Linked DNA regions of Homo sapiens. The protein of the gene in region 1 interacts with the protein of each later gene in a pairwise test. Each region holds a gene or a part of one and is shown in the gene's direction. Other genes may lie near its edges. The genes, in order: WBP11, DDX17, TESC and UBASH3A.

Region 1 (7,915 bases):
GCTGAAATCTTTCTTTTTATATTGGAAATTTTGAGCAAATTAGTTTTGCGAGCCCTTGTTTCGCGTTTTATGTTATGTTTTTCCTTCAGATTCATAGTTGTTTTTTATGAAACATTAAACAAAAATGTCTTGACATTTTTGGTTGTCATAATTAGAGGGATGCTCTTGGCATGTAGTGGAGAGAATCCAAAGATGCTGCTCTTTTACAGTGCATACTGTAACTTTCCACAATAAAGAATTACCTGTATTAAATTGGAGGAAATGCTAATGTTCAAGATTCAAAGATTTTATTATATCTCCCTCTCTCCTTTTAAAGGAAAGGAAGCCCGGAAGAGAGAATTAAAGAAGGTATGATTTTAGAGGCATCTTATAAAACTTTAAGTATTGTTTGGTACATCTTGTGATTTGGGATTAGTGGGTTTCAGAATAACATTTCTAATATTTTCTAGAAAAGGTACTTTATGCTTTTTATAAAAACTGTAAGATATACTAAGCCAAACTTTATTTAGGAACTGAAGTAACTTTGCAGAGAAGCTCACTACAGGTTATAATGCCATTGTTTGATTACTTTTCCCAGTGAGTTAAAAAATACTTTTGAAAATAATTCTTTTTTTTACTCATTAAAACATAACTGTTTTAAAGTCTACTGATGAGGATGGAAATAAACATGATGCTAGATAGCTTTATCCATTTTCCTGATTAGCTGTCTATTACATATATTACATTAGCTTAAATATATATATGTAGGTTTATAATATTTATAGATATATTAGATTTATATATCCATTTTCCCAATTAGCATTCTCCTCTTAGCTGTTGAATTTGTGGCAAAGTACTTCAAAAGAATTAGAAAGGATTTGCCTTATAGTATTGTGCTTTATAGTATTATAGTATAATACATTGAAGCAACACAGATTTTAAATAATGTTCGATTGTGTTTTCATGTTTAGCATTAACTCCTGCAAAATTTTTAAATATTCTTTATATAATTTTAGAATTTAGCTTCAACCTTTGCTTTGGACTTCAACTAGCAGAGGTTTTACAACAGGGGGCAGGAACAATCACCCAAGGTCTTCAAGAACATAAGGGGTTAAAAAAAAGAAATTTAAAGTGTATGTGTGTTTAAGTAACTGCTAAAGATCTCAGAGTTCAAAGAAATACTTTACTAAGAAAGCACATCTTAAAAATAGCATTTCTTTATCTTTTTGACAAGTGTAAACATTTTTAAGGCAAAAAATTACATAGCTGTTTCTGGTGGTTGAAACAAGTGATCAGAAGCCAAGGAGTTATTCTGTTTAGATTCTTAAAGCAAGTTGAAGTAAAACTCCTGAGTGCCTGACTTCTTGACATCTGCCCTTTTATTTTTCTAAGAACAAAAAACAGCGCATGATGGTTCGAGCTGCAGTTTTAAAGATGAAGGATCCAAAACAGATAATCCGAGACATGGAGAAATTGGATGAAATGGGTAAGAATTTACAAACAGGCAGCTATAACAGTCTGACACGTACAGAGGCAGGCAGGTAACGAGTGAAGCAGCATAGGCGTAAGTAAAACAGAACAGCATGATGGCATTTGATGCTTGGATTTAATGTTAGTTTCAGGGAGACAAAATGGAGTGCTAGAGGGCTGTTGCAAACTGGAGACCCCAGATACCAGAATAAGAGGGAAGCGATTATTTGGCTTTCAGTTAATTGTTATTGTGAGATAACAGAAGCACAGTTTGGCCAGCTTGCTTTTTGGGAGAAGACTTAATCTGATTTATGAAATAACCTTGGGTTTTTTGTTTGTCGTCTTTTATTTAATGTTGGCAACTACCATGTAAATCTAAGTATTAGGCCCCTGTGAATATAAGGCAATTTCCAATTTTTCCAATCAGAAGATCCAAAAAGATACTTATCCATTTAGTAAGGATATAGAAAAAAATCATCAAATACCTAAAAACCAAATAATAAAATACTATACCAGGATTCTCTGCCTTTTTCACATTTTATAGAATAGTTTTATTCACTCTTCATATGCATTTTAAGTATCGCTGCTTTGTTATAACTGGAATCACATGAAATAGCTGCATGTTATCTTTTTTTGCATCTAAGTTTGAAAATCATTGATGTTGCCACTGGAAATTTTATCCTAACCCACAAATATCCATTCTGTTTAATATTAGAACATGTAGAATATTTTGTTTTTTTAATAGAAATTTTCAAACATGCAAGAAAATAAAATAGTCTAGTTAACTTCCATGTGCTTTTCACCTGTCAAGTTTCTGCCACTTTGTCTTCTACCCTTTGCCACTTTTGTAAAATAGCATTTTAAAGTGATCGTTACAAGTTCCATGTTTTGCCCAAAAACAGAGTAGTAAGTAAAAGAGATGGAATGAAACTCCTCAATGATACATTAAATGGGGTACAAAAAAAAAATTCAGTCATGGCATTAGGCTATTACAAGGTTTCTGAAATAATGTGGGAGAATCTGTGCAGCTAGCCTGGCTAAGAGTTCTGGGTCAGGCTTCAGGATCCCAGATATTTCCCAGTTCAGTTGTAACTGATTCCACTTCCTGCCTCTGGTCTAAATATCAGCAGGGATAATTACTTTCCTTGGGGAATCAGGGAATCCTTCTTTAAATGACCCCAAATGTTATGTGTTGTTTTAAAAGGAGATAATAGGAATAACTGAGGTTTCTTGAGTAGTTGTCTTGCTATACACCTACGCACCAGTTTTTTTCCACCAGTTTTCTAATCGTCACAATTTTTTAGGGTAGGTGCACTGTCCCTATTATACAGGTAAGAAAACTCAGGCATGGAGAGATTACATAGCTTTCCTCAAGGTCACACTGCTATGTAGTGGCAAAGCTGAGATTAAAACTCAGGCATTCAGCGCTTTTACTAATCACACTAGGATTAGTATGGTGTAAGAATACGCCCTCTGGATTTGAATAAATTGCCAAGATTAATAATAGTTAATAGGATTTAAGGAAGAAGATAAATTTGTTATTCTTTTAAGAAAAAGGAAAGGGGTGAAGAGAATACTATTCATCAGGGGTCTAGTTACAATTTATAAAACTCAATACAGACTAGTTAAGGCAGAAAAAAGCATGCATTGGCTGTCTTAATTAAGAAGTCTTAACATAAAAAAAAGATGAGAAATCCCTGAGAGAAACTAGCCTCAAAATCCAGTCTCATCATCAGTACTGTCCATCTGTCTAGTCTGATGTCTGTTAGCCTCATTCAGCTTACTACTAATGAACTCCTTGGGATAGAAGGTGGAATATATGTGTGTAATTAGTGATGATTGAGAGACAAGGCCACAGGCAGCTCTAGGTTTGTTTTCTCTCTACATAACACATTCAGAAAGAAAATCTGAGAGCTTATCTCTCTCACATCTACATTTAAAATCTCAGGGAATGTTCTGGTCCCAGTTTGGATCATGTGCTAATTGATCTCTGAGTCATTCACTGAAAAGGAAGATGGGGGGATATGATTGACCAGGCAGGCCTGGAGGTCTTATTCTTGGGATAGAGGACCTGCAGTTAAGCCCCATATTGACACATGATTAGTTAGGGAGAGAAAGGATTGTATAGTAGCTAGGCCAGGAATACGGATCTGTTATAAAGATTATAGTTAAGTGGTGAGTCAAACACCACTGGATATTTTATTTGTAATCCCATTGTATCATCATAGCTTTATTACAAAGTGATTAACGTCTCCATTTTTTAGATGAGGAAGCAAAAAATCAGAGAATTCAAGTAAAATGCTTAAGATCTCAAAATTTGACAGGACTAACGTAGTAGGTAAACACAAATCTGACAGAATCTTCACGAGGTTTTCAGCACAGAGCAGTGAAAATTGATTTTTATTACAATGAAGATGAAAGTCAATTAGGTGGCATTTCTGAGAAAGGTAAAATTAGTGGCCATCTAAAAAGGGTGGGGATTTTAATAAATATTGTAGTTCTTCGAATAAAATTGAAAAGAGTATGTCTGGTGTCTAGATCTCTTAAAAATTTTTTAGCATATATGGAGGTTTTTATCATGTAACCTATTGATACCTAATTGAAGTGGCCTCTTATATTTAATTCCATAATCTACTTTTTCTCTTAGAGTTTAACCCAGTGCAACAGCCACAATTAAATGAGAAAGTACTGAAAGACAAGCGTAAAAAGCTGCGTGAAACCTTTGAACGTATTCTACGACTCTATGAAAAAGAGAATCCAGATATTTACAAAGAATTGAGAAAGCTAGAAGTAGAATATGAACAGAAGAGGGCTCAACTTAGCCAATATTTTGATGCTGTCAAGGTAATCAAGGTTTTTTTTTTGAGAGATAAACTAAAATATTATACAGATTGAGTATCCCTTATGCAAAGTGCTTGGGACCAGAAGTGTTTTGGATTTAGGGTTGTTGGGTTTTTTTTATATTTTGTTTTGTTTTTGTGTATATTTGCATATATTTTGGGGATGGAACCCTAGTCTAAGCATGAAATTTATGTTTCATATACACATAGCCTGAAGATAATTTTATAAATTTTGTGCATGAAACAAAACTACGACCCATCACATTAGGTCAGGTGTGGATTTTTCCACCATGGCATCATATGGGAGTCAAAAAGTTTAGGATTTTGGAGCATTTTAGATATTCAGATTAGGGATGCTCAGCCTATACTTAGATTTAAAAAGTTAATGGGAGAATGTCATGTTGAACCTCTTCCTTATAGCAGTTTCTTCTAAAACTAAACATATACCTACTGTGTGAACCTGCAAATCTAATCCTCTTTATTTAAACAGAAGAAATTAATTCAAAAACTTGGATCAGCCTAAGTGTTCACTAATAGGATAATGGATAATTAAACTGTAGCATATTTATACAATAGAATACTATTCAGCAATAAAAGGAATAATCTAATACTCAAAACAGCATGGAATAAAAAAAGAAAAATTGTGAGTAAATCTCAAAAACATGCTAAGTTTATCTCATTGTTATGATTTCATTTTTATGAAATTCTAGAATAGTCACAGATAATCTGTGCAGGAAAAAAAAATGTAGCCGTGGTTGCCTTGGGGGATGATATTAGAGATGGATTGGGAAGGAGTATGAGGTATATGCATTTGTCAAAACTTACTGAATTTGTAAATTTCGTAAATTTTACCTCAAAATAAAGATGGGAAAAAATCAAATGCTATAATTTCTGTAAAGGAGGTAATATGTCTCCCATTTTACAGATGAAGGCACAGGTTACCTTGCTTAGTCAAACTAAGCTAATACACAACAGAAATTCAACATAGGCAAGCTAATGAGCCCAACCTCCACCACTGGATATATACTATTTGTTAGTTGACATATATTATTTTTCTTTTTTTTGTTTATTTTTTGTTTTTGAGACCGAGTCTCACTCTGTTGCCCAAGCTGGAGTGCAGTGGCACCATCTTGGCTCACTGCAACCTCTGCCTCCCAGGTTCAAGCAATTCTCCTCCCTCAGCCTCCTGAGTAGCTGGGACTACAGGCACACGCCACCACAACTGGCTAATTTTTGTAGTTTTATTAGAGATGGAGTTTCACCATATTGGCCAGGCTGGTCTCAAACTCCTGAGCTTGTGATCGACCTGCGTCAGCCTCCCAAAATGCTCGGATTACAGGTGTGAGCTACCACGCCCAGCCTGACATGTATTTTTCTATCACATGTTAAATAGGGTAGTTCTGGTGCTAGATACTTGTAACAGTTGGCTTTCTCTAGACAACAGCTGTTTCGAATCATCCAAAAAGAATTACCTGATAAGAGGAGAAAAAAAACAGCTGGGTTCTGACGTTTTTAGAAGTAAAGATTTCTTTCAGTTCTTTGACAATGTGGAAGTATTGACGTAAGGTTATTTTTCTGGGGGTTTTTGGTGATATTTATGTTAGTTGGAAAGCATGTCCAAGTTACGAAACAGCTGACTTGTCATTTTTAGTGTTTAGTTAGTAGATGACTTTTTTATCATACTACTGAATGGTTCTCTGTTTCAGAATGCTCAGCATGTGGAAGTGGAGAGTATTCCTTTGCCAGATATGCCACATGCTCCTTCCAACATTTTGATCCAGGACATTCCACTTCCTGGTGCCCAGCCACCCTCTATCCTAAAGAAAACCTCAGCCTATGGGTAAGGAAGCAGTGTCACAATCAGAGAGCATTTAGTAAAGGCACAAGTTGACTGTCCAGTGCCAAAATTAATGCAGAGGGAAATAAAAGACAATATGGATGTAAACAGTGTGACATTTGATTAAATGTAAAATAAGAAATCCCTTGAAAATTGTTTAGAAGAGAAAATAAATATCTCATTACTGTTAAGTGATTACTGTGGGGGTTTTTTTGTTTTTGTTTTTTTTTTTAACAGACCTCCAACTCGGGCAGTTTCTATCCTTCCTCTTCTTGGACATGGTGTTCCACGTTTGCCCCCTGGCAGAAAACCTCCTGGCCCTCCCCCTGGTCCACCTCCTCCTCAAGTCGTGCAGATGTATGGCCGTAAAGTGGGTTTTGCCCTAGATCTTCCCCCTCGTAGGCGAGATGAAGACATGTTATATAGTCCTGAACTTGGTGAGAAGTGACTGTTCTTTTGCTTTTATAACTATCATTTTTTATGTTGGCCCTGTTTAACATATTGTTCACCACCCTCAGAACTTAGAAAGTAAATGAGAGGGTATCATGTACATAACTAATATACATACAGTTGGATAAATCATAGGATCTTCTCAAGTAAAAGCATCATACATAAGTATAGAAATGTTTATCGTGTTTTAAATTAGGCTTTTCCTGGAGATGTCACTCTTGCTGCTAATCCTTTAAGACTTGTATATCTGGTTCCCTTTTAGCTTTATTGTCATCAGACTAGAGCGTCATTGTATACATTCACTGACTGTGTATGTGTATACAAACATGATTGTTGCTAAAGGAGGAAATGGGTTTTCAAATTAGAACTCTTTTTAAAAAAATCTTAAATTACCAAAAAGAAGTGTTTAAAATTATTGGCAGAGGAAAATTTTGTTAGACTGTATGAGTAGCTATATATACAAGAATTTTTTTTTTTTTTTTTTGGTAAGAATTAAGTTGTTACAGTCTGAGTTGAATAGCATAATTTTCTGTATTTCTGGGTACCATGTAGTGGAGGGTCCAATCATACTACTTCTCCATGTTCCCTTCCCACTTTTCAGCCCAGCGAGGTCATGATGATGATGTTTCTAGCACCAGTGAAGATGATGGCTATCCTGAGGACATGGATCAAGATAAGCATGATGACAGTACTGATGACAGTGACACCGACAAATCAGATGGAGAAAGTGACGGGGATGAATTTGTGCACCGTGATAATGGTGAGAGAGACAACAATGAAGAAAAGAAGTCAGGTATGTGCAGATGAAGGATTCATGGTATTGATCAATAAAGAGAAAACAAGCTGAAGGTCCTAATTTATTAATGAATCTGTGAGAGTACTCTGAAATCTTTGGAAGTCGGGATCATAGCTGTGTTCATCTTATATATTAAAATTTTGAAAGTTTTTGACACAGTAAGTACTCAGTGGATGTTTATGAGGAAAAGCATTAAACTGTATGTAATAAAAATGTCTATGTAATAAAGTTCACTTTGGGGTAAAAGGTATAACTATTCAACAGCATAAACGTATTATGGGTATGTTACAGGAAAGAAAGGAGAGTAGCCATATTAAGAAAAACATTGATGTTGTATTTTATAAATCTGTTTAAATATCTACCTTTGAAGCCCTTTTATGGTATCTTACATGAACCAGGATCATAATTATAACCCAGGTACACTCATGAGTGGAATCATGAAACATATTATATCTATAATGTGTGTGTTTGATTATTAAAAAATTCAAATAGGACATTTGTCAAGAAAATTTTAAGCATCATAATGGGTACTGACAGTGGAAA
Region 2 (7,915 bases), on another chromosome or scaffold:
CCCAAAATAATGGGATTACAGGTGTGAGCCACCACGCCCGGCCTACTTAACTTTTTTAAGAAATAAGCTTGCATTTGTCCTATATATTTATGAACATGTACAATATGTCTCAAGATATTCACAAAAAGAAATAATGCAGTACTTATAATACATAGTATATGTCTGACAGCATTATTATTAGTTGATATCTAATGGATCAGTATATAAAGCAAGTTTCATAATTTAATTTGAATGGTATATGATACCTTGATTTTTGTATTATTTGGCCAGATTGTACACAGTCTTGTCAGATTACATGTAAATTTTCATTGTTTTTGCCTTATCTACCTGGTGATGTGCTTAAATTAGAGGTCAGGAATGTGTCATTCTGCCAGTTTAAGTCAGGATGACCATCCAAAATTCCAAATTTTAGGCCAGGCATGGTGGCTCACACCTGTAATCCCAGCACTTTGGGAGGCCAAAGTGGGCAGATCACATGAAGTCAGGAGTTCGAGACTAGCCTGGCCAACATGGGGAAACCCCCATCTCTACAAAAATACAATAATTAGCTGGGCATGGTGGTGCCTGCCTCTAGTCCCAGCTACTCAGGAGGCTGAGGCGCAGGAGAATCATTTGAACCCAGGAAGCAGAGGTTACAGTGAGCCTTCATTGCACCACTGCACTCCAGCCTGGGCGATAGAGTGAGACTTTGTCTCAGAAAACAAAACAAATCCAAATTTTGAGGACCAATATGATCCTCAAAGTAAATGCTTGCTGGAGCATTTTGGTTTTGGGGGTTTAGGATGCTCAACCTGTAAATGAGAGTTGTATACTTAAAACCAGGTAATACAATCTATATCTCCACTTAAACAGTATATATAAACTATAATGATTGATAATGTGTCATAGTAAAAGTGACGAGGATACCAGTATCATTCCAAATGCTAAACATGAAGTTCTAATAATTTTTTTCTATATTCCATTGTGCTAATATTCCCCACTTCTGATCTTCACCCCATCACTTTTAATGTGCTAGATTAGACAGCAAAGAATTAAATTAGCTTTTTGTATTTTGTTTCTTCTTTTTTTTTTTTTTTTTTTTAAACCTTGGATGAGGTCTCAAGTGTCTTTTTGTTGGTTTCAGTGTCTAGTTCTGGCTCCTACCAGAGAGCTTGCCCAGCAAGTACAGCAGGTGGCCGATGACTATGGCAAATGTTCTAGATTGAAGAGTACTTGTATTTATGGAGGTGCTCCTAAAGGTCCCCAGATTCGAGACTTGGAAAGAGGTAATAATATATAGTGTAAAAGAATTGTTAGTTTATCTTACTTTACCAATTCCTGTGGAGGAAATTGGAGAAAAAAAGTGGGTTCTTGTGATAAACTCAGAATTTCAGCAGCTTAGAAATTCTCAGATGTGACTAAAACAGCTATTTTGAGAGAGAAGGTTCAGCATGGCTGGAAACTTTGTGAGGATTTGGTGATTGTACATAAGTCCTGACATGGTTTTGCGGTTACTTTGTTAAAATTTAGCTTCTCTGGGCCAGTGCGGTGGCTCATGCCTGTAATCCCAGCACTTTGGGAGGCCGAGGTGGGCGGATCACGAGGTCCAGAGATTGGGACCATCCTGGCTAACATGGTGAAACCCCGTCTCTACTAAAAATACGAAAAATTAGCCAGGCGTGGTGGCAGGTGCCTGCAGTCCCAGCTACTGGGGAGGCTGAGGCAGGAGAATGGCGTGAACCTGGGAGTCGGAGCTTGCAGTGAGCCGAGATCGTGCCACTGCATTCCAGTCTGGGTGACAGAGCAAGACTCCATCTCAAAAAAAAAAAAAAAAATAGCTTCTCTGCAGCATTGAGTACAGCCACCAGGGCTGCTGCTGCTGCATTTTTGTAGAGTCGGGGTCTTGCTATGTTGACCAGGCTGGTTGTGAACTGGCCTCAAGCGATCTTCCCGCCTCCTCTTCCCAAAGTGCTAGAACACAGCTGTGAGCCACTGCACCTAGTCGATTGGCTCGATCATTGGTTTTGTTTTACAGGTGTTGAGATCTGCATAGCCACTCCTGGACGTCTGATAGATTTCCTGGAGTCAGGAAAGACAAATCTTCGCCGATGTACTTACCTTGTATTGGACGAAGCTGACAGAATGCTTGATATGGGGTTTGAACCCCAGATCCGTAAAATTGTTGACCAAATCAGGGTGTGTAAAGCTAATAATAAGCAGTCTTTATGCCATTTGTCCAAGTTCCTTAGCCTGAAAGAAAGCCTTTCCTTTTTTGATAGCCTGATAGGCAGACACTGATGTGGAGTGCAACCTGGCCAAAAGAAGTAAGACAGCTTGCAGAGGATTTCCTTCGTGATTACACCCAGATCAACGTAGGCAATCTGGAGTTGAGTGCCAACCACAACATCCTCCAGATAGTGGATGTCTGCATGGAAAGTGAAAAAGACCACAAGTATGAAAGATATTTTACTCTGATTTGATAATGCTGATAAACCTTTTCTAATAACCCTCCAAAATTAGTACTGTAGAAACCAGTATATTTTGAGGCCTGAGAACATTAAAAGCATTGCTAGGTTTCTGATAATCCATCATCATATCATTTGTCAGAGCATTATGGTTAAATGCAAGGATTCTGAATTCTTGAGTTTGAAATTTAGCTCTGCTGATTACAAGCTGTATAATTTTGCACAATTTTGTGTCTTGGTGCTGCAGTTTCTTCATCTGTGAAATGGGAGTAATACCACTTACATGAGACTTGCTGTGAGGATGGTATGAGTTAGTATTTCTTGAGCACATAGCAGAACCTGACTCAGTACTCTAATAGTTATTAAAAATTTTAAAAGCGTAATGTGCAAAGAAAGTACTGTAGCCTTGGGAGTTGATATTGCAGACATAATCGTCCACATAATAACTTTCTGTGTGATGACTGCATTGTTGGTCATGTTTTCAGGTTGATCCAACTAATGGAAGAAATAATGGCTGAAAAGGAAAACAAAACAATAATATTTGTGGAGACAAAGAGACGCTGTGATGATCTGACTCGAAGGATGCGCAGAGATGGGTGAGTATAGCACCAAGGCAATTAACCTCTGGTTTTATAGTTAACTGGAAATTTCTAAATTGGTATTCCAAATGTTGTGTAATATTTCAATAATGCCTATCCATGCAGTTTGCTCTTTTAATGAGCACAGTCATCTATTCATGAAGCCTGACAAACCTTACAAAAATTGCATGATAGCATTTGGCTTTAAAGTTCGATTTTCTCCACTTTAAAAGATTTTTAAAATATTGGTCACTTTTCTTCTGATAGTTGGCCAGCTATGTGTATCCATGGAGACAAGAGTCAACCAGAAAGAGATTGGGTACTTAATGGTAAGTTTAAAACTAAGCATTTTCTGTTGATTCCCCACCCCCTGCCCATAAGTGAATGTTCATGCTCTATTTCAGGGATAGGCAAACTTTCTGTAAAGGGCCACATAGTAAGTATGCTTGGCTTTGTAAACCAAATGGTGGTCTCTGTTATAGCCACTCAGCACTGCTGTTTTAGGACAAAAGCTGTAGGCTGTAGATAATATGTAAAGAAGTGGCCTGGACTGGGCACCGTTGGTGGCTCATGCCTATAATCCTAACACTTTGGGAGGCTGAGGCGCGTGGATCACCTAGGCCCAGGAGTTCAAGACCGGTCTGGGCAACATAGTGAAATCCTGTCTCTAAAAGAAAAACAAAACAAAACAAAACTTAGCCAAGCTTGGTGGTGCACGCCTGTAACCCCAGCGACTCCGGAGATTGAGGTGGGAGGATTGCTTGAGTCTAGGAGACAGGTTGGAGTGAGCCAAGATCGTGCCACTCCAGCCTGGGTGACAGGGTGGGACCCTGTCTCAAAGAGATAAACGTGGCTATGTTCAGACAATATTTATTTGCAAAAATAGGCGTTGTGCCAGATTTGGCCCAAAGGCCAGTTTGTCTTACCCCTGTTGTATAGTTGATTGAATTACTGAGGGTACTTTTAGCGTGTGCTCATGGTTCTTTAAGGGCCACGATGCTGGCTCTTTAAACTTTTTCACAACTTTCACCACCCTCCCTTTATTAATAAAGTCTTCAATTTTTTCCTTCTGATTATAAAAATATAACTACCGTTTGGGGAGAATTAAACTGTTACTGAAATATTTAAAGAAAAATGTTTCTTAATGAGTCATATTTTAGCATATTTCCTTTCAGTCCTTTTTTTCAGGACTACTCTTAAGGGAAGCCATTGAGAAATGGAAGAGGCCATATTTTGTTTAAGAAATAAAATGTGGCCGGACACAGTGGCTCACGCCTGTAATCCCAGCACTTTGGGAGGCTGAGGTGGGCGGATCACCTGAGGTTGGGAGTTCGAGACCAGCCTGACCAACATGGAGAAACCCCGTCTCTACTAAAAATACAAAATTAGCCGGGCATGGTGGCATATGCCTGTAATCCCAGCTATTTGGGAGACTGAGGCAGGAGAATCGCTTGAACCCGGGAGGTGGAGGTTGCGGTGAGCTGAGATTGCGCCACTGCACTCCAGCCTCGGCAATAAGAGCGAAACTCCATCTCAAAAAAAAGAAAGAAAAATAAATAATATGCATACCTTTTGGGGGGAAATTCAGTTCTTTTCATTCTACATCTTTTGAACTTGTTTCCTACTGACCCCCAACTTTTGGTTGTGTCTCATTTGGGAAATAACTTTAAGGGGAAAAAAATCTAGCTCATATTAATTATGTAACAAATTGCCACACTCTCTTAACGGTATTTCATTATTAGTAGAGGTAACTATTGTGCTGCTGAATATGAGTGTAATAAAGATTTTCAAAAGAATCACTGTCAGTCATTACAAGAGCTTGGGATTTTCTGGCACCATTATTTGAAATTTTAACATGGTTATGTAAACAGATCAGATAGCAAGGAATGCTTATTTGATGATGATTATTGTTTGTTTTTACAGAGTTCCGTTCTGGAAAGGCACCCATCCTTATTGCTACAGATGTAGCCTCCCGTGGGCTAGGTTTGTATAGATAGGTGTCTCTGTCAATGGTATATGTATCTTTTGGTTTAAAGATTCGTCATTTCAAATTCAGACTTCAAGTTTAGAAAGTTGTATATACATGTGGTTAGATAAATATTTGAAAGAAAAAAATACAAAGCGTGATTCTCCCCATTCCCTGCCCCCCCCACAATTTTTTTTAACTTTGGTTTCCCCCACCCCCCTTTTATTTTCAAAGTCTCTTCCTGCTCCTAACAAACAGGCTTTGGTCTGCAGCAAGGCCTAGGCATGACTATTCAAACAGAGGGAGAGGAGACAGACAGCTGAATGGCTCAGCTTCTCTCTGGTGGTGGTTTCTGGCTGGATAGAATAAGCCTGACGAAACCTAGCTATTGTAAGCTAGTTTCTTCAGTTATTCTTTTCCCTATCCCTGTCTAAGCTAGATATATACAGAGAGGTCCAGTTTTATGAATGCTTATTAGATGGAATTTTATAAGTCTAATGCAGTATCAGAATAGCAAATATGTGTATTGCCCAGTTTAATTTACTGAGGTCAAATTATCATGGGCACTTGGCTATCCCCTCCTACCCATGCACTTATCTGTAGGTGTGTTATCAACTGATGATTTTCTGGAGTTTTTGACCCATTACCATTTAAGATATACAGAGAATTTTATGGTAGTTTAGCCCACTATTCTGAGCTAAACAGGTCTAACTCAGAACTTCTATATTTTAAAAAAAAAGATTATTTGTATTACAAGGAAATCCTTAAATTATTGACAGGTATTTAATTTGCCCAGTAAGGTGAGAAGTACCATATTATTCCCTTATACTATATAATATAAAGAGAACAGGTATTCAAACTGGAATACAAAAGTAATGAAGCCTTTTTATGCATTGCACTCATCATTCCCTCCTTCAGAGGTGGTGACCTGCAGCCATGATGGAAAGTTCTCTCTGCCCCTCTGCCCTCTGAGGTCATGTCTGGATCTGTGCCATTAGAACTTGGGCCTGTTGGGAGAGGAGGCGGAGGCCTGAAAGCAGTTTACATAAAGCTTTCAGTAATGGTTGGTTTTTAAACAGGCTTGCTATGTGCTGGTAGCTTCTTTGTGCATCTTGCCTAGACAATTAAAAATATTTGCTCCATGTCCCCTTGCATTTCTAAACCAAATTAATTGGCTACCATTAGAATAACTTAGACTCTTCATCCCACCCCCACTCATCCAAGTGAGGGGAGAGGGAAGGTACCCGAGTCTGTTTCTTGTTACTCAACATCAGTGCTTGTTTTGGGCCCCTTTGTTTGCTGCCTTGTAAAAAATCAAAAGAGGGAGAAAACCCACCAAAATGGCAGAATTCTGACCAATGTCCTACAAGATCCTGGAAAGTGAAGGCTTCTACCTCATAGACAGGGGTGCAATTTTCAGCTGAGTCACCAGGGCCTTTTTTCACTTCCTGTCAAGCGATGGTCTCTTAAATGTTCCCTTCAGGTAAGTTCTTTGATTCCCATAATTTTATAATAGTCATCCTTAGGCTACCACTTCCCTTTCCACTGGGATATTTTTTATTTTTCCTTTTTTTTGTTTGAACTACACACTGTTAAACTAAAAGTATTGAATTTATTTTGTTTTGTTTTTTAACAGAAGCTTTGATATCAGCTGCAGATCACTCAATACATGGCCGAGACAAATCTACATTGGCCGGAAGCAGCTCTAGATGAGCCTCTTGGCTAGACTTAGTCCCTCCTTATTAGTGATTGGCGATTCAGGCCATGTCATAGGGCCTTTCAGACAAAAGGTTCTTATCCCAGTCAGCTGGCCAAAACATTAACTTTGGATTTCTTACCCTGCTACAGCATCTTCTAGAAAGGCAGCAAGATAATATTGTGGCAGTGCACAGATAACATCAGGGTAGACTTGACTGGAGAAAACCAAATTCTGCGCTTGCTCCTGTGTGCCCCCATCCAGCTGTGCATGCACACACAGGACACCTTTCTAGTATGAAGAACTTGCATCATGTCTGCCCTCTATTGAGCACCCCCTTCTAGAAATACTTCCAAGTATTAGCATGTGAACTGTTGACTCCACCCTGGTGCTTTCTGCTAGGAAAGCACACTTAACGCATCCAGTGTAGTAATTGAACTTGTTCTACTGCCATGGTCATATGCAGTGGGATTGCATAAGGAGCATTATCCTAGCTCTGAAGATACCATGGAGTAGAATTCCCCACCCCCTGTCTTACATCCACCCTGGCCCTGTAAATTCTTTTTTCCTTTGTTGCGTCAACGACCCTAGCCGGAGACTCAAGCTGCCCCCTGTGATAAGTGCCTTCTCGTCTTTCTGGTGTGATTCAGGACTTTAGGGGTCAGTAAAGACCGAGGAGCCTTTATTGTAATAAGAAACAGACATAATGCCCCTTCTTCACAAGCCCTGTAACAACAGCTAATTTTTTTTTTTTAATCTCCCCTTTCTCCCTTGAAATTAATCCAGTCTGGGCAATAGATGCAGTCTGACCCTTTGGATGTAACTTACATTTTTTTTTATTAATTATTTTTTTCTACAATCACCCCAATTATCCTTGGGGGAGGCGTTGGAGGACCTGAAATTTTTACCCGAACCCAGGTTCTCCGGCGCTTGGCAACCAAATGGGGCTACAGAGAAGCATCTAAGCCAGTTCACAGAGCGAGCGTGTGTGGGGACTTCTCACTGCCACGGACCCTTGATGCATGCTCCCCGCGCTCCAGTGGTCCCGTGTCAGAAGGCGGAGTTTTCGAAAGGAGGCCGCCAAAAATAAAAGGCAAAGAGACGGGATCGGCTGCAGCGGTTTCCCAAAGGAGGAGGGAGTGTGCATCGGTCTGGTAACAAACAGAGAATGTTTTTTAATTATTTATATCACAAAAATCTGTGTTTTATCTAGGATATTTTCTGAATATTC
Region 3 (8,226 bases), about 100 Mb from region 1:
TTACATGTATGAATCACCTGACATATATGAATCTGCATTTAACCTTCACAATCACCTTACATGTATGAATCACCTTACATATATGAATCTGCATTTAACCCTCACAATCACCTTACATGTATGAATCACCTTACATATATGAATCTGCATTTAACCCTCACAATCACCTTACATGTATGAATCACCTTACATATATGAATCTGTATTTAACCGTCACAATCACCTTACATGTATGAATCACCTTACATATATGAATCTGCATTTAACCCTCACAATCACCTTACATGTATGAATCACCTGACATATATGAATCTGCATTTAACCCTCACAATGTTACATATATGAATCTGCATTTAACCTTCACAGTCACCTTACATGTATGATCACCTTACATATATGAATCTGCATTTAACCTTCACAATCACCTTACATGTGTGAATCACCTTACATATATGAATCTGCATTTAACCCTCACAATCACCTTACATGTATGAATCACCTGACATATATGAATCTGCATTTAACCTTCACAATCACCTTACATGTATGAATCACCTTACATATATGAATCTGCATTTAACCCTCACAATCACCTTACATGTATGAATCACCTTACATATATGAATCTGCATTTAACCCTCACAATCACCTTACATGTATGAATCACCTTACATATATGAATCTGTATTTAACCTTCACAATCACCTTACATGTATGAATCACCTTACATATATGAATCTGCATTTAACCCTCACAATCACCTTACATGTATGAATCACCTTACATATATGAATCTGCATTTAACCTTCACAATCACCTCACATGTATGAATCACCTTACATATATGAATCTGCATTTAACCCTCACAATGTAATTGCCACTTTGCAGATGGGGAAACTGAGGATGAGAGAGGTTAACTTGCCCAAGTATGGTTTCATAGCCCTCCATGACAGGAAGGTGGGAGAGCCAAATGAAGACCATCCTGGCCATCTCTGGGCTCAGCTGCTCTTTGCGGCTTGACAGGGACCAGCTATATGAATTGCGGTCACCACTTTTAATCAGCTCCTCCAGGAGGAGGTCCTCTGGGAGAAAAGACGCAGTTGCCTGGTGACTAAAGTGTTTCCCAGTCCTCCAAAAGTCATGCTGTGTTATTGGGGGGGATAAAGCTTGCCCCCCAGCAGGGTGCCCCTCTTCCAGGGCTCTAGACAAAAAATCCAATGAGCCCTGGCCAGACCCCATGCAAAGCTGCAGACCTCATTCTTGCTTCTTGCTTTGTTGACGCCTGCAGAGCCATTGGTAGGTTTGAATGAAAGCCATGACGTCCCGGAACAGGCAGCAGCTGGCTTTGCGTGGAGGGCGCCTTGCGGTGTGCACATCATTGCCAGAGGAGGGCAGAGCCCGGGCAGATGGTGGGTGCCACTGCAGGGGCCCCCACAGAGACATCTGTCCACCAAGAATTTGGCTTTGCTGTATCCCTTCGGGACCACAGTTGGGGACAGTCCTGGACTTCCTGAAGCTCAGCTTTAGGGATGACAGAGTCTCTCCAGGGGCCCATTCTGGTTTGAACATTCCATCTCTCTGTGGGCTCCATCACGTCAGCCCTTGTTTACCCATCTGCTTTGTCACTGCCCGTGTGTCTGTCTCCTCACCCCACCAGGAGTTCTTCAGGAGCGAAGGTGGCATCTTATTCCTGGCTGTGGCTCCAGGACCTAGCAAGAGCCCTGAACATAGTAGGTGCTCAATAAATGTGCAATGAATAAATGATTGAACGAATGCATAAATTGTGCCTTGGTTTTTTCTGCCTTCGTGCTGCTCCAAGGATCTCCTGATTACTTCTCCAAGCCCTGCTATTAGGAATAAATCCTCCTCTGTCATCCTCAGCAAGACTTCCCGCCTCCCAGCTCCCTGCTGACTGGTGGTGGTGGCTTGTTTGGCTGTGGACCCAGGAGAGGGGATGAGGACTCTGAGAAGGCCTCCCTGAGGATGTGAGTTTCCACTGAGGTCTGAAGAGGAAGCGGGAGTGCAAGAGAGTTTCAGGCAAAAGGAACAAGTACAAGTGCTTGTCTAGTAGCTAACAGCGGTCAGTGGGTCAGGGTAGACAGGTGATCGGGTAGGACAGACTCCCTTCATACTAGATACCAGGGGCTTCCTTGAGATCACCAAGGGACAATGTGAAGCCATGTGCCCTTCTCCTTGTCCCAGGGCTTTTGTCCCCACCAGAGCAACTGTGCCAAGCAGGAGGGGCTGATGTCCAGAGAATGCCACTTCCTATCCCCCACATCAGACAGTTCCATCATTTAATCCTTGACTAGTTTAATATAATAAAATTCCAGGAACTGACATTTTAAGTTGGAATAAAATTGCTCCCAGCAGCTGTACGTAATGGGCTGGCTCAGCGGCTCAGAACTCCCAGGGGTATTGGGGATCCTTTCCTGATCCCAGAGGCCTGCCTGTTTCCAGAATCCTTTAAACCAAAATGCAGTCCCTAGGTCAGCTGTCCTGCCGGCTCAGATCAGCTGATGACCCACAGCCAACATCTTTCCACCTTGATCAGGTCTTGCACTGCCCTCTGGAGAGTGCTTTAAAATGCAGATTGCAGGTGCTGCCTTAGCTCTACGAGTGCAGACAGGCAGTGGAAGAGGAAGCTGGATTTTCCATTTTAGAGACAGGGTCTCGTTCTGTTGCCTGGGCTGGAGTGCAGTGGTGCAATCAGAGCTCACTGCAGCCTCTAACTCCTGAGCTCAAGCGATCCTTCTGCCTCATCCTCCCAAGTAGCTGGGACTTCAGACGCACACCATTGTGCCCAGCTCATTTTTAAAAAGTTTTAATTGCTGGTAGAGCTGGGGTCTTGCTATGTTGCCCAGGCTGGTCTCAAACTCCTGGGCTCAATCCTCCTGTCTCAGCCTCCCAAAGTGGTGAGATTACAGACATGAGCCACTGCACCTGGCCAAAAGCTGGATTTGCAACCAGGAAGGGGCTGATTCTGATGCTCTAGGAGGTTTTAGGACCAACTCCCACCCTCTACCTCGGGCTCTGAAAGTCACCTCCTGCCCCTGGAAAGGGCTGTGACCCTTGGCTTGAGCCTGTAGTCTGCAGGAATGAACAGCAGTTCTCAGCAGCCCCCTTCCCAGCAGCCTGTGAAACTGATGGAGGTAGGTCCACCCGAGTCCCCTCTGTGGGCACCGAAAAACTCCTGCCCCCTACCCTGTCCCCCTTCCTCCCCAACATTTATCATCGAGACTAACGTTCAGAACAGACCTGATACCTGACGGTCATTGATGGTGGTGTCACTAAGCACTGCAGAGCCTTCAGGAGAGCCTTGACCTTGATGTTCTGCCCTGGCTGTGTGCCTCTCCAGGGGACAAGATTCCATAGCGCCCACCAGCCTCTGTGGCCATGTGCTGTGTCCACGCCAGGCCCTCTGGTGGACATCTCATTAACTTATCCTTATTTTAAGGAGGAGGAATCACATTACACAGGCAACAGCATCGGCCCCAGTCACCCCAACTGGATGGAGAGCCAACCCCTCAAGCCATCTTAACCCAGAACTTCCCTAATGGGCATGGGGACCACCGGCATTGCCTTCTCTCCAGCAGTTTGTCCCAAATGCAGCCTCCTGGGCCCACTTCTGCAGTTGTTTTTTTGTTTGTTTGTTTTTTGAGACAGAGTCTTGCTCTGTCGCCCAGGCTGGAGTGCAGTGGCAAGATCTCAGCTCACTGCAACCTCTGCCTCCCAGGTGCAAGTGATTCTCCTGCCTCAGCCTCCGGAGTAGCTGGGATTACAGGCATGTGCCACCGCGCCTGGCTAATTTTTGTGTTTTTAGTAGAGACGGGGTTTCACCATGTTGGCCAGGCTGGTCTCGAACTCATGAGCTCAAGTGATCCGCCCGCCTTGGCCTCCCAAAGTGCTGGGATTACAGGCGTGAGCCATGCGCCCAGCCCGCTCCTGCAGTTTGAGGTGCCTCTCAGCCACCGGGCTGTGCAGGGCCCACACGGGCCGCCACGTGGGTGTGTTCACCTCAGAAGGTGCTGGGGCTTTCCTGGAAAAAACCAAAGCGCATGGTGCATTTTCAAATAGGATTATTATTACTGTTGTTCTCCATAGAGCTATTTCATGCTCGCTGACTTCCTTGACTATCTCAGTGGAGTTTCCCTCCTAAGATCTGGAGGATGTAAGGTGGGATGGGTTGGGAGTGGGCATAGCACCTCCCAGGGGTCCCACCCCTCCTACCCACGCCCCCAAATTTGCTCACACCTGCTTCCTTCCAGATCCAGCAGGTGTGCGGAAGGGACGAGGTACGTGAGCACTGCTGCACGAACGGGGACTCCAGAGCGGTGGGCTCCGGGGTCCCCTTCCCGGCGGTTTCCGGGCCGGGGCGGGGCGGGGCGCTCCCCTAGCCGCGCAGTGCGCGAAACCGGCGTGCGCTAGGACCGCGGCGCGCCGCCCTCCGCCGTTATATGAGGCCCCGCTCCGGCCCCACGCGGAACCCGCGGCTCCGAGCCTTCGCCGGCGTCCCGACCCGAGGCCGGACCCGAGGCCAGTCCCGCCGCTGCGCAGCCGAAGCCAGTGCGGGGCCTGAGAGGGACGCGCGCCCCGGGGCCCCCGCCGCGGGCACCATGGGCGCTGCCCACTCCGCGTCTGAGGAGGTGCGGGAGCTCGAGGGCAAGACCGGCTGTGAGTACCCGCGGGGGGCGGCGCGGGGACCGGGGCGGGACCTCCGAACGGCCACTGTTGGGGACCCCGGCCCGCCGCCGCGCTGTGTGACCTTGGGCCAGTGGCGGGCCCTCTCTGCGCCTCAGTCTCCTCCTCTTTCAAATGGGTCCCCGCTGGCCACCTCGCGGGCTGCGGCGAGGAGCTCCGCGGCGATGCTCAGTGCCGCAGCCGCTCAGCTTCGGACTGGCCCGGGAACTCCCTGGCCGGGGGACTGCGGACCGGGGAGGGAGCGGGGCCCAGGCTTCCCAAGCGCAGGGCAGGTGCCTCAGGCCGGGCGGGCAAGTCCCTCAGGCACCCCCGCTGGCGCGCGCGCCCCACACCTGAGAGTCGTTTGCATTCGTGAGCGCGAGAGCGGAAAGTTTTGAAGTCGGCGGACCTGGGTGGGAACAGGTCTCCGACGCTCCCCGGCCGGGTGACCTTAGTCGGGAGAGCCGGCGCCCGGCGCCTGCTTTCGTCCTCGCATCTGTAAAATGGGTTCAGGCAGCCTCATCCCCGCGGGTGGCTGGGAGACTTAGCGAGGCAGCGGCCGCAGAGCACTTTGCCCGGAGCCCAGCGTCCTCCCCTGAGTTCGCTGAGTCTCCCGGGACCAGCAAAGGCTGCGCGCCCCGCATCGGCCCGGAGGCGGGGAGCCCTGGGAGGCCTGGCCGAGCTGCCCGCAGGGAAATGGCGGAGAAAGCGCTTCTCTGCCCGAGTTCAGCCGGGCTGGGGACTTGGCCCTGGGTCCTGAACTCGGCATGGCCAGTTCTGCCTCTGGCTGTGGACCAGGGTGTGGACTGGAGACCGCGGGGGCCAGGTGTGTGGGCAAACCGGCTTTGGCGAGCGACAGACCGGCTGTGAACCCTGCCAGCTGCACTTCCTGGCTGTGTGACCTTGGGCTAGTCACTTTACCTCTCTGATTCTCAGCTTTCCTTCTCTGTTGTAAGAGTTCTCCTAGTACCTGGTAGACGCTCAGGAAATGGGAGCTGCAGATATTTTGGGAAAGAGCTAGCTCCTGGCACCTGCTTCAAGTGCAGAGAACCAGCGTCCAGTATTGATCACCAAGAGAGGGTGGCCCAGCTGTTTGTGTGTCAGCTGAAAAGCAACCCCTCTTGACCCCCAATCTAAATACCCCTTTCCAGGAGAACTGGATGAAAATTGCAGAAAACCATTAATAACTGGTGTGTGTATGCACGCACTTATACGTCTATATCTGTATCTCTGTGTGTGTAGAGATATAGAAATATCCAACTAAAGAAGTAAAAGGTGTGGCTCAGCATATATAATATGGTACCCTTTTTTCTGTTTTTTAAAAAAGGATCCTTTGAGCTGGAGCCGCAAAGTAAAAAGAAATAGAAAATGTAAAAAGAGGGGAAAATAAGAGTATACATTTGTAATTGCTATATTTGCAGACTGGAAGAATCCACCAGAAAGTACGAATGGATGCTTGGTGGGGGTTGCGGGGGGAGTGGAAGGGATGAAGGGAGAGTGAGCTTTTTCTCCGTAAACGTTTTTATATGTTCATTTTGAACTATGTTGGATATTTTACTTACTCAAAAAGTTTTATGCACTTCAATCCGAAGACTAATATGAGAGAGAAAGGAGGGATTCCTCTAGCTCTTACTTGCTTGGGTCTCCTCTGCTTTTATTATTTCTCATGTGCCCTCTCCTCGCCTCCCACTGCTTTGAATCTGGATGGGTGTCGATGGGCATTCTCTGTGGCTGGGATCCCCGTTGGAAGGGTGGGCTCTCCGGCAGCCCACGGGGCACTCGGGAATTCCACCTGGTTGTGGGTTTGACAGGGAGGAGGGGCTGCAGAGCATGCTGGGAGTCTTGTCAGTTTCCTGGGTCCAGCCTCCCACTGGGATGACAGATGCTGTGTTCCTGCTCTGTAACCTTCCTAGATGTAGCTGCAGCGGCTTCCCTTCTTGCTGCCCAGAGCTCAGACTTCATAACCCAAGGGAGATGGAGAGGGTCGGAGAGGAGGTTCTGAGGTTAGACTAGAGTAGGCAGGTGGAACTTTAGGTAGGTGGAAAGTTGCCCCCAGTCCTCCGAAAGGGACTGCGTAATTCGGTCACTTTTGCCCACTTAGCAAATATTTATAGACCAGGGGCTGGGGATTTAGAGATGACTCGGAGAGGCTGCTGTTCCTGGAGGGGGACACACAGTAAACAAAACGCCCGACAGGTGTTAAACTGTGAACGAGGCATAGCAGGGTGGCATGAGAATGGAGCTTTAGGGTGGATCCGGAGGTCCTCCCTGAGGAGGTGATAATGGAACAGAAATCCAAGTAAGAATGAGCCAGGGGTGTGCAAATCAGTGGAAAGGGCATCTCGGGCCGAGGGGACGTCGAATGCAGAGGCCCTGTGGCAGGGACAAGCCAGCAACAGTAAATAAGAATGCATGAGATGAGGACACAGCTGTCGTCAGGGCTCAGGCTGTGGCAGGAGCCTGGCTTCAGGGGCCTTGCCAGGTACCTTGGGCAAGTCACTTATGCTCTCTGAGCCTCAGTTTTATCTACTATAAAATGGGCATAGTCATAGTACCTCCCTTGAAGTTGTTGGGAAGGATTGAGTTAATATACATGAAGTAGTTAGACCAAACACATGTACATGGTTTGTTATTGACCATGCTTTAAACACTCTTGTATGTCCTGGTCGCTCCGAGCCATAGCTGAGAGTTGAGTCTTGGTCCCACCTCTCTGAGCTACATGACCTTGGGCAAGTCATCTTACTTCTCTGAGCCTCAGTACCCCCACCTGGATCCTGAAGTCATTGTGTGGATTTGATAAGGTTACGTGCGAGACGATCGGCTTGGCATGGGAACGTCAGCTCCCAGAGACCCAGTGGGTCAGGCAGGGCCCTTCCTCCAAGGCCATTCCCTTGGGAATCTTCCCTGAGAAAAAGGGAGAAAAGCCTCAGGGTAAGGTGGCCAGAGGACAGACTGAGCCCACAGGGCTGCTGACTCCCCCGCCTCCCTGAGGACCAAGATGACCCCTGACTTTCTGGGGAGGAATCAGCTTGGTCCCTTTCTGAGAACACCATCCAGAAAGGACCAGAAGGTCAGGCTGAGGCTGGTGATAATGAACATAATTCCCCAAGCACCTGCTGAGCATCAGGCTCCACGCTGGTGCTCTCTGCATAACACTCTTTATAGTAATGATCCCCCAGGAAGGCAGTGTTAGGGCCATTTTACAGGTGAGGAAACTGAGGCTTAGAGAGGTAAACCAGCTTGCCTGCAGTCCCACAGCTGCTAAGTGGAGGAGTTGGAGATCATGGGATCCCCAAGCCTACTTTCTTTTTTTACAGTTTTTTTTAATTTTTAGTTTTTGAGGCAGGGTCTTGCTCTCTCACCCAGGCTGGAGTGCAAGGGGCATGATCAAGCTCACTGCAACCTCGAACTCCTGGGCTCCAGCGATCCTCCCACCTCAGCCTTCCCAGTAGCTATGACTGCAGGTGTGCGCCACCACACCAGCTAATTTTAAATTTTTCTGTAGAGACAGGGGTCTTGCCATGTTGATCAGACTAGTCTCAAATT
Region 4 (7,915 bases), on another chromosome or scaffold:
ATTGATGGAAAGATTTGAGACATAATTGACATCTTTGCTGATAGAGACTAGCGGCCACCATGCTCTCGGGCTGCCTCTGAGGGGAAGGGAGTTTACTGGTGGTCATGAAGCCAGGTGTGTGGGTCTAAGGGTGCCAGGTGTGTGGGTCGGGTGAGGGCTCTGATTTGAGGTGACCTCACCAGGTACCAGCTGCGTGAGTGATTCTTCAAGCCACCCACTGCCATGGGCCTGTTCTCTGCTCTGGGGATGGAGAGGAGGGCCACCGTTTCTCTAAAACCCTCTCCTACCCGGATGTGCTGTGGGGAGTCCTTCATCCTCTGCCCTGAGATAGCCACGGGGAAAATCAAACAATAAAAACCAGGTCCTGGGAGGCTGGAGTGTCCTCTCCAAAGCAGGAGGGCAGATACTGATCCTGGGTCTCTGAACGTGCAGTGTTCCCAATGGGATGCCCCCTCCTCCTCCAGAAAGTGTAGGCCACGGGCAAAATGGGCAACCCCTTCACAGAGTCCACTAAAGCCAGTTGCCAATTTTGGATCAGAAACAAGCCCACTGCTGTGAAGGGCATGGCCAGCACCTGCCCACTGCAACCCAGTCAATAAGACTAGGAACCCCACCAAAAAATAGGGAGGCAATGGGGTCCCCTAGACTGTCAAGAGCACCCCAACCTCTCACTAGTAACCAGGGAGGTGGTGCAAATTAAGATATCATTAGAGCAAACAAGGTAACTCCAAGTGTTGATGAGGGTGAGGGAAGCAGGGCCTCACACGTCACTGGTGTCACTGAGGAAGGCAGTGCTGGGTATCTGCCAACCTTGGCAATATGCACAGCCCACCAGCCTCCGTCGTGCGTCTAAGCAGATTCCCTGGAGAAATGCAAGGAGCCTAAAGAGACATGTACAAAGATCTTGATTGCAGGGTTATGAAATGGTTTTAAAATAAAATAATTTAGATGTTCATCAATGCGGGAATGAACAAGTGCAACATTGTATATGTATACATGAACTATTACACAGCCTTTAACAAATTCGCGCTGACAAACTTCACTAGACACGTGTGTATCAACAGGGATTAATTGAAAAGACATGGTAGAGGAAAAATGCCAGTTGTAGAATAATTTGAATAACAGCTTATGATTTATGTAAAACAAGTGCTATCTATAAGTCCGTTACTTAAATTTCTGGGAGAAGGCAAAGCAGCTTCACCCTCTGGGTGAACCCTGGAAAGGGGGAGGGTGGGAACCACGATGGAGAGGAGTGGCAACTTCTTCTGTGATTTTTATTGAAGAGAATATGGTCTTGCGTAAGTTCTGTTTCCTCTAGTGATTGAATACTACTTTCTAAATTGAAAATTATATCACAGGCACTTTGCTGAGTAATTAGAAATTCTTCCAAACCATGATTTCTAATGAATGCACGGTAAATAGATTTGCTATCAGTTATGGAGTTTTTCTTCTTTCTTCTAAATAACCCTAAATAACCTTCTAACTTTCTTCTAAATAGCCCTAAATAGATGGTTCATGTGCAAAGTTTTGCCTATACAGTACTTTGTGCTCTTTCCTCGGGAGAAATTTCTGGAAGTAGAATTATTAATGCAAAGAGTGTGGGCATTTTAAGACTCTCAATACCTATTGGCAAATTGCTTCACATAAAAGTTGAAAGGTCTGTCCTTAAGTCCTGCTGCATCTTTTACACATTGAGCAGAACTTTTATCCTTTTTATTGAAAAAATCTTTGTGAACTTGACAGATGAGAAAAATGCCGTCTCGGAGCTATTTTATTTCCATTTTTATTGTTAGTGACAATGAACTCCTATGTTGGGTCATCCGTCGTTTTTCCTTTAATTTAAAATAACTGTCTGCCTGAAATCCCAGCCAGTCAGGAGGCTGAGGCAGGAAAATTGCTTGAACCGGAGAGGTGGAGGTTGCAGTGAGCTGAGATTGTGCCACTGCACTCCAGCCTGGGTGACAGAGAAAGACTCCATCTCAAAAATAAAATAAAATAAAATAAAATAAAATAAAATAAAATAAAATAAAATAAAATAAAATAAAATAAAAACTGTCTGAATCTAAAGAAACGCAGCAGCTACCTAAATTTTGTCTAGGTTTTTGGTTTTGGTTTTTATATGTAATTTGAAGTTTGAGGTAAAATACAAATGTGAGGTTTTTCCACAAAATTTTCCCACACCATCAAGGAGATGCTGGGCCCACGGATCATTGGAAGACCAGGTTTTAGGTCTTGCTGTCAACTTTCTTTCATTTTTTCTACCTTTGACTTTGGAATCAGACTAAGGTGGGTCTGAGAGCAGGACTTACACTGACCAGGTCTGTGCCACACACAGCTGTGCCGCAGTGCCTCCCACCAGTAGGATGGCTGTGAGATTAATTTATGTCATGAGCATATATGATGTCTTCAGTGTGCCCTATAATTCTGCATTGCTGTCATTGTCATTCTGTTGTGTATCCTCAAAGGGGAAAACTCTTTTTGTTGTGACAGTGGGTGATGCCGGCTTGCTCTCTGTTGCAGGCTGCATGATCATTGCAATGACCCTTCCCTAGACGACCCCATCCCCCAGGAGTATGCCCTTTTCCTCTGTCCAACGGGGCCCCTGCTGGAAAAACTTCAAGAGTTCTGGAGAGAGAGCAAGCGCCAGTGTGCAAAGAACAGAGCTCATGAGGTCTTCCCACACGTGACACTCTGTGACTTCTTCACGGTGAGTCAACCCAGTGTGCCTTCAATGCTCACGGCAGCTGGAGGCATTTTTCTGTGCTAACTAGGCCATGATGGGACAAAGTTGACTTATTTAAATGGGATAGTCCAGAACTGCATCATTAGCTGGCACCTTCATATGAGCTGTCCTTTATTTTCCTCTTTGCCTTCATCTGGTCAACTCCTATTAATCCTTCAGAACCCAACTCATTTATCCTCTCCCCTTTTTGAGTCTTCTCCAGCTCCCCAGGCAAAAGGAGTTGCTGCCCATTTTCTCGTTCATGTGTCTAGTGGCACTTTTGTATCATACGGGCCATGTGTCTGGTGCAGCACCGCATCCCTCACCAGACCGAGTCCCTCAAGGGAAGGCAGATACCTCACTCATCTTTGCACCCCCAGAAACTAGCACAGCCCCTAAAACAGAGTTTGTGCTTCCAAAATGTGTGGTAAGTCAACTCAAGGATGGGTGATTGTTGGCTACCCACAAATGCAGAACTTTTCCCTGTCTCAGGGACCAGCCGTCTGATTCAGAAAAAAAATGGCCCAGTGGGTAGCTCCACAGCAAAACACAATGGCCCAGCAGGCAGCTCTACAGGGGCACCGGGAAGACAAGAAGAATGTGGGAGCTGCTCAGGAGAAAAGAAGGAGAAGGGAGAGACAGACAGCCACTGCTCTACTCAGCTCCGCCAGAGGGGCTTAAGGAAGGGCACACCCACTTCTGCTACCGCGGCCTGGCCCCAACTCTGCTGTTGGCAAACTGATTTGTTCCACCCATTTCAAGGAATTCCATCAGGGCCCAAGGAACCCTCCATTCCAACACCAGGCCCCTCGGTGCTGGATGGAAAGGAGGAATGCAAACCTCTGAAGGGAAAAGATTTCTGGAAGATGTCCCAGGAGAAGCAGTACCTTCCAAAGCCTCCAACCACCACCCCGGATTGCCCGAGACTTGCAGGGATCCCCAGAGCACAAGACTAAACCTGGAAAAGCCCCAGAAAAATCGAGAGAGTTTTCCCCCTACATCGACATCAATGGTACTTGTGACAAGCTGACTCCCTTCTGGTTCACCCTCTGGAGCCAACGGGGAAAGGCAAGGCAGCCCAAGCCATGTGACACAGCTCAGAAATCAGAGCAGGCCTTGGCCCCCCACTCCTTCCCCAGCCCACTGAGGTGCAAGCACACACACACACACACAGATAGACACAGAGACACACACATAGCTCACACACATAGACACACACAGATTGACACAGAGACTTACACATGCACACAGATACACACACATACATGCATACAGACATACATAGATATAGACACACAGACACACACAGATAGACACAGAGACGTACACACGGCACACACAGATACACACACATACATGCATACAGACATACATAGATATAGACACACAGACACACACAGACATGGAGACGTACACACGGCACACACAGATACACACACATACATGCATACAGACACACACAGAGACACAGATACACACAGACACACACAGATAGACACAGAGACGTACACAGCACACACAGATACACACACATACCTGCATACAGACATACATAGATATAGACACACAGACACACACATATATACATGCATACATGGATACAGACATACACAGACACACACAGATAGACACACATACACACTACATGTACATAGGTACACATGCAAACAGATACACACAGATATACACACACAGGAATACACAGATACATGCACATAGACACACACAGACACACACAGAGACACACATTAGATAGACACACATGCACAAACACAGACATGCACATACATGCACATACATAGACAAATGCACACATACAGACACACACATAAGCACCACATGCACACATATGCACACAGATACACACATGCATACACACAGACACACATATAGACATACGCAGACACACAGACACACATAGACATACGCATATGCAGACACACACACAGACACACACACATATAGACATATGCAGACACAAACACACTCACACACCTCCCTCTGTCGTTAGCTCCTCCCAGTCCCCCACCCCAGTTCTGGCCTGGCCGTGGTTAGTGGAGCTCCCCTCACAGGCAGAAGAGTGTAACGGAGACTCACTGTGTACCTTGATGCTGTAAAATGAAAACACTAATCTTCCGAAGTGTGATATTGATCACAGCTACACTTATAACATGACTATTCTTGAAAATTACATATCTGAGGCCAAGAAACACAATGTGAGACGGATTCAGGAATGGACATGTGTTCACTGGGTGGTTTTGTGTTGAGTGCCGTTGAGGGTTGCAGAGAAAACAGACAGGGAGGAATGTCAGGCCGGCCTGTCCATGGGGAGACGGAAGCTGCATTAAACACTGTGATCTGGCCTCATACTTGGGCTTGTAAGAAGCACTGTGGGAAATTCCGAGGGCAGCCCGGTGCTGGGAAGAGAAGGGATCAGGCCAACTCCCGCCAGGAGGGTGTGGTGTCTGGGTTTCCCCTGTGGTCCGATGTGGCCAATGGCACTGGGAAGGTTTTCAAGCCCAGGAAGCAGCCTCCCCAGGGCGGTAGGCAACACCGAGCCCAGATGTCAGGAGAGGCTGCGTCTGGCTGGAGGATGGGGGTGGGAGCCCCGTGGGCAAGGCTGTCGGGCCAGCACCTGTCGGGCTCCGTGGGCCTGAGGGATTCTCCAGGTGACAGAGAGCCTGCGGCCTCAGGGGTGGGAGCTGCATCAGAAAGAGGGTCCTGCAGCCACTCAGGGGGCATCAGGGAGGCCGGGCCAGGGGCTGTGCAGGCTCAGGTCCTCCAGGGAGCAGACCCCAAGGCAGAATTCCCAGTGCAGGAGACGCACAGGGGAGAGACTGCTGGTGAAGGCAAAAGAGGAGGAGAGGGTTGGAGGCAGGCAGAGCCTCAGTGCCTTAGAGGAGTCCCTGTGGAACCCGACTCAGTGCTCAGCCGTGGAAGAGAGGGTGGCCCCGCAGCTGGAAGTGCAGCTGAGTCCCGCTCACTACAGGCTCTGAGCAGTGCCTGGGCAGCCTTGGAGTCTGCTAGAAACCTCCAGAAGCCAAATCATGCAAACCTGAGCAAAGCAGTGTGCCATGGGACTGAGGAAAGGGCCTGGCAGGTGATGAGCACGTGCCATGGAGGGAGGGGATGCAGTTCAACGACCAGGGGATTTCCAACCTGGGCACCTAAAGGAGACTCCAACCTGCAAAGAAACTTACCTGAAATATTTGAAAAAACCGAGGTCCAGGTATAGAACAAATCCATAACCCCAGACACAAAGGGACGCAATAAATTATGTTACAGCGCTTTGAACAGAAAAGAATCTCACTTTAATTGCTGCCTGATTGTTATTAATTAAATTAATAGATGACTTCTGATGAGAGGTGTGGAAACACAGGCTCTGTCTCTGTCCCCTTAGTGTGAAGACCAGAAGGTGGAATGCCTGTACGAGGCGCTGAAGAGAGCTGGAGACAGGCTCCTGGGCTCCTTCCCCACGGCCGTGCCTCTGGCTCTCCACTCCTCCATCAGCTACCTCGGCTTCTTCGTCAGTGGCAGCCCCGCAGACGTCATCCGGGAATTCGCCATGACCTTCGCCACGGAAGCATCTCTCTTAGCAGGTGGGCAGCCCTGGCCAGTTGCAAACACAGGGCTGGATTCACAGTGAGTGAGCCCTCTGTGGCAGGGACTAGCCCCCGGCACATGGATGCAGTGGGTGGGTTCCAGGGGAGCAGAGCCCAGCAGCAATGGTGGGATGGCTGGGTGGGCTTTCTTCCGGGCTCAGTGGCTGCACCTGTCCTCACCCAGGCACTTCCGTTTCCCGCTTCTGGATTTTCAGCCAGGTGCCTGGACATGGCCCTAACCTGAGGCTGAGCAATTTAACTAGAGCCTCCTTCGTGAGCCACTACATCCTTCAAAAATGTAAGCCATTAGAAAGCTTCCGGACCAGCTTTGGTCTTCTCTTTAGGCGGGAATAGCCTTGTTCTCATTATGTGGTTTTTAAAATGCTTAGCTATATGCCAACAGCCTGGGAAAGTGCCCCAGAAGGGTGTGCCAAGCATCAAGCCTGAGTGGGTGACTGTGACGGGGTTGGAGGCTGGTGCACACAGGGAGTCAGGGCCTCCCCACCCCAGCCTTGAGTGGGAGACACACAAGTCCTACGTGACTTATTTCTGTATTTTCAGTATGAGCTTAGTGCTCTCTCCTTGGCCTCTCCAGGGAAAGATTATTTAGACTCATATTCAGAATCATCAAAATTCCCTTCTCTCCAAACACCAGCCCTGGCCTGGAGACCAAGGCTACCATTGGGGTTTAGTGGAAAGGATTGTGGACTTGACGTCAGAAGATGTGATTTTTTTCTGTGTCCCTGATGAGTGGCATGACCTTAATCAAGTCATGTCCACTCTCTCTGTCTCTTTTTCTTTCTCTACAAAACAATGAGGGCTCTCACTCTTCAAGAACAATGTTGCCTGAGTCTGTGGCCCATCCTGCCATAGTTCCCGGGACACAGAAGGCACTCAGTATTGCTGAGATTTGCCGACTCTAAAATCTGACGAGGCCGCAGTGCCTTGGTGGGAGGGCTCCCCACTTTCTCTCTCTGGGAGCGTGTCTGTCTGTGCTCAGACATGTATGAAGCACAGATCCTGGCCTGTAAATCCATCCCTGAATCCTGGGCTTCCACTTGGATGGCAGCTTGTGAGTCTGGAGATCGAATCTGCTGAATAATTAGAAAGTCGCCCCCGGTCTTTGTGGATTAGTATCCTTTATCAAATGATGGCTCTTTCACACCCAGGCCCTCCCCCAGTGAACCTCATTGGCAGCATCTTAAAAACAGGAAGACTGAGGCTGCAAAGGGTGAAGGGCCTGCCCAAGGTCCTGTGGTGTGTAGAGCGGTGTCCCCTAAAAATGTTTGTCCACCAGGAACTTGGGAATGTGACCTCACTTGGGAATAGGGCCTGTGCAGATGCGATTGGTTGGGAGGAGGTCACACTGCATTAGGGTGGGTTCCCGTAAGGGTAGAGGCCGCACAGAGACACAGAGAAGCCATGTGCCGACTGAGGCAGAGACTGGAGTGATGTAGCCACAAGCCAAGGGACGCCTGGGGCCACCGGAAACTGGAAGAAGCCAGGAAGGACCCTTCCCAGGAGCTTTCGGGGAGAGCACAGCCCTGCCAACACCTTGATTTTGAACCTCTAGTCTCCAGAAATGGGAGGC

Evidence for each region.
Region 2: the proteins of WBP11 (region 1) and DDX17 interact in a two-hybrid assay, tested with the Homo sapiens proteins (3 studies listed by BioGRID and IntAct).
Region 3: the proteins of WBP11 (region 1) and TESC interact in binary tests that used the Homo sapiens proteins (3 or more experiments, as listed by UniProt).
Region 4: the proteins of WBP11 (region 1) and UBASH3A interact in binary tests that used the Homo sapiens proteins (3 or more experiments, as listed by UniProt).

The regions. Positions count from the first base shown.
Region 1 is NC_000012.12:14,793,185-14,801,099, reverse strand, and holds part of WBP11 (WW domain-binding protein 11), read left to right. Parts: intron 1-316; coding exon 317-348; intron 349-1,371; coding exon 1,372-1,465; intron 1,466-4,096; coding exon 4,097-4,293; intron 4,294-5,995; coding exon 5,996-6,129; intron 6,130-6,363; coding exon 6,364-6,563; intron 6,564-7,177; coding exon 7,178-7,369; intron 7,370-7,915. UniProt on the Homo sapiens protein: Activates pre-mRNA splicing. May inhibit PP1 phosphatase activity.
Region 2 is NC_000022.11:38,489,146-38,497,060, reverse strand, and holds part of DDX17 (probable ATP-dependent RNA helicase DDX17 isoform 1 precursor), read left to right. Parts: intron 1-1,123; coding exon 1,124-1,265; intron 1,266-2,014; coding exon 2,015-2,175; intron 2,176-2,258; coding exon 2,259-2,431; intron 2,432-2,929; coding exon 2,930-3,040; intron 3,041-3,289; coding exon 3,290-3,351; intron 3,352-4,945; coding exon 4,946-5,005; intron 5,006-7,915. UniProt on the Homo sapiens protein: As an RNA helicase, unwinds RNA and alters RNA structures through ATP binding and hydrolysis.
Region 3 is NC_000012.12:117,095,673-117,103,898, reverse strand, and holds the start of TESC (calcineurin B homologous protein 3), read left to right. Parts: upstream 1-4,482; 5' UTR 4,483-4,616; coding exon 4,617-4,674; intron 4,675-8,226. UniProt on the Homo sapiens protein: Functions as an integral cofactor in cell pH regulation by controlling plasma membrane-type Na(+)/H(+) exchange activity. Promotes the maturation, transport, cell surface stability and exchange activity of SLC9A1/NHE1 at the plasma membrane.
Region 4 is NC_000021.9:42,406,902-42,414,816, forward strand, and holds part of UBASH3A (ubiquitin-associated and SH3 domain-containing protein A), read left to right. Parts: intron 1-2,520; coding exon 2,521-2,707; intron 2,708-6,122; coding exon 6,123-6,321; intron 6,322-6,508; coding exon 6,509-6,622; intron 6,623-6,657; exon of another isoform or gene 6,658-7,915. UniProt on the Homo sapiens protein: Interferes with CBL-mediated down-regulation and degradation of receptor-type tyrosine kinases. Promotes accumulation of activated target receptors, such as T-cell receptors, EGFR and PDGFRB, on the cell surface.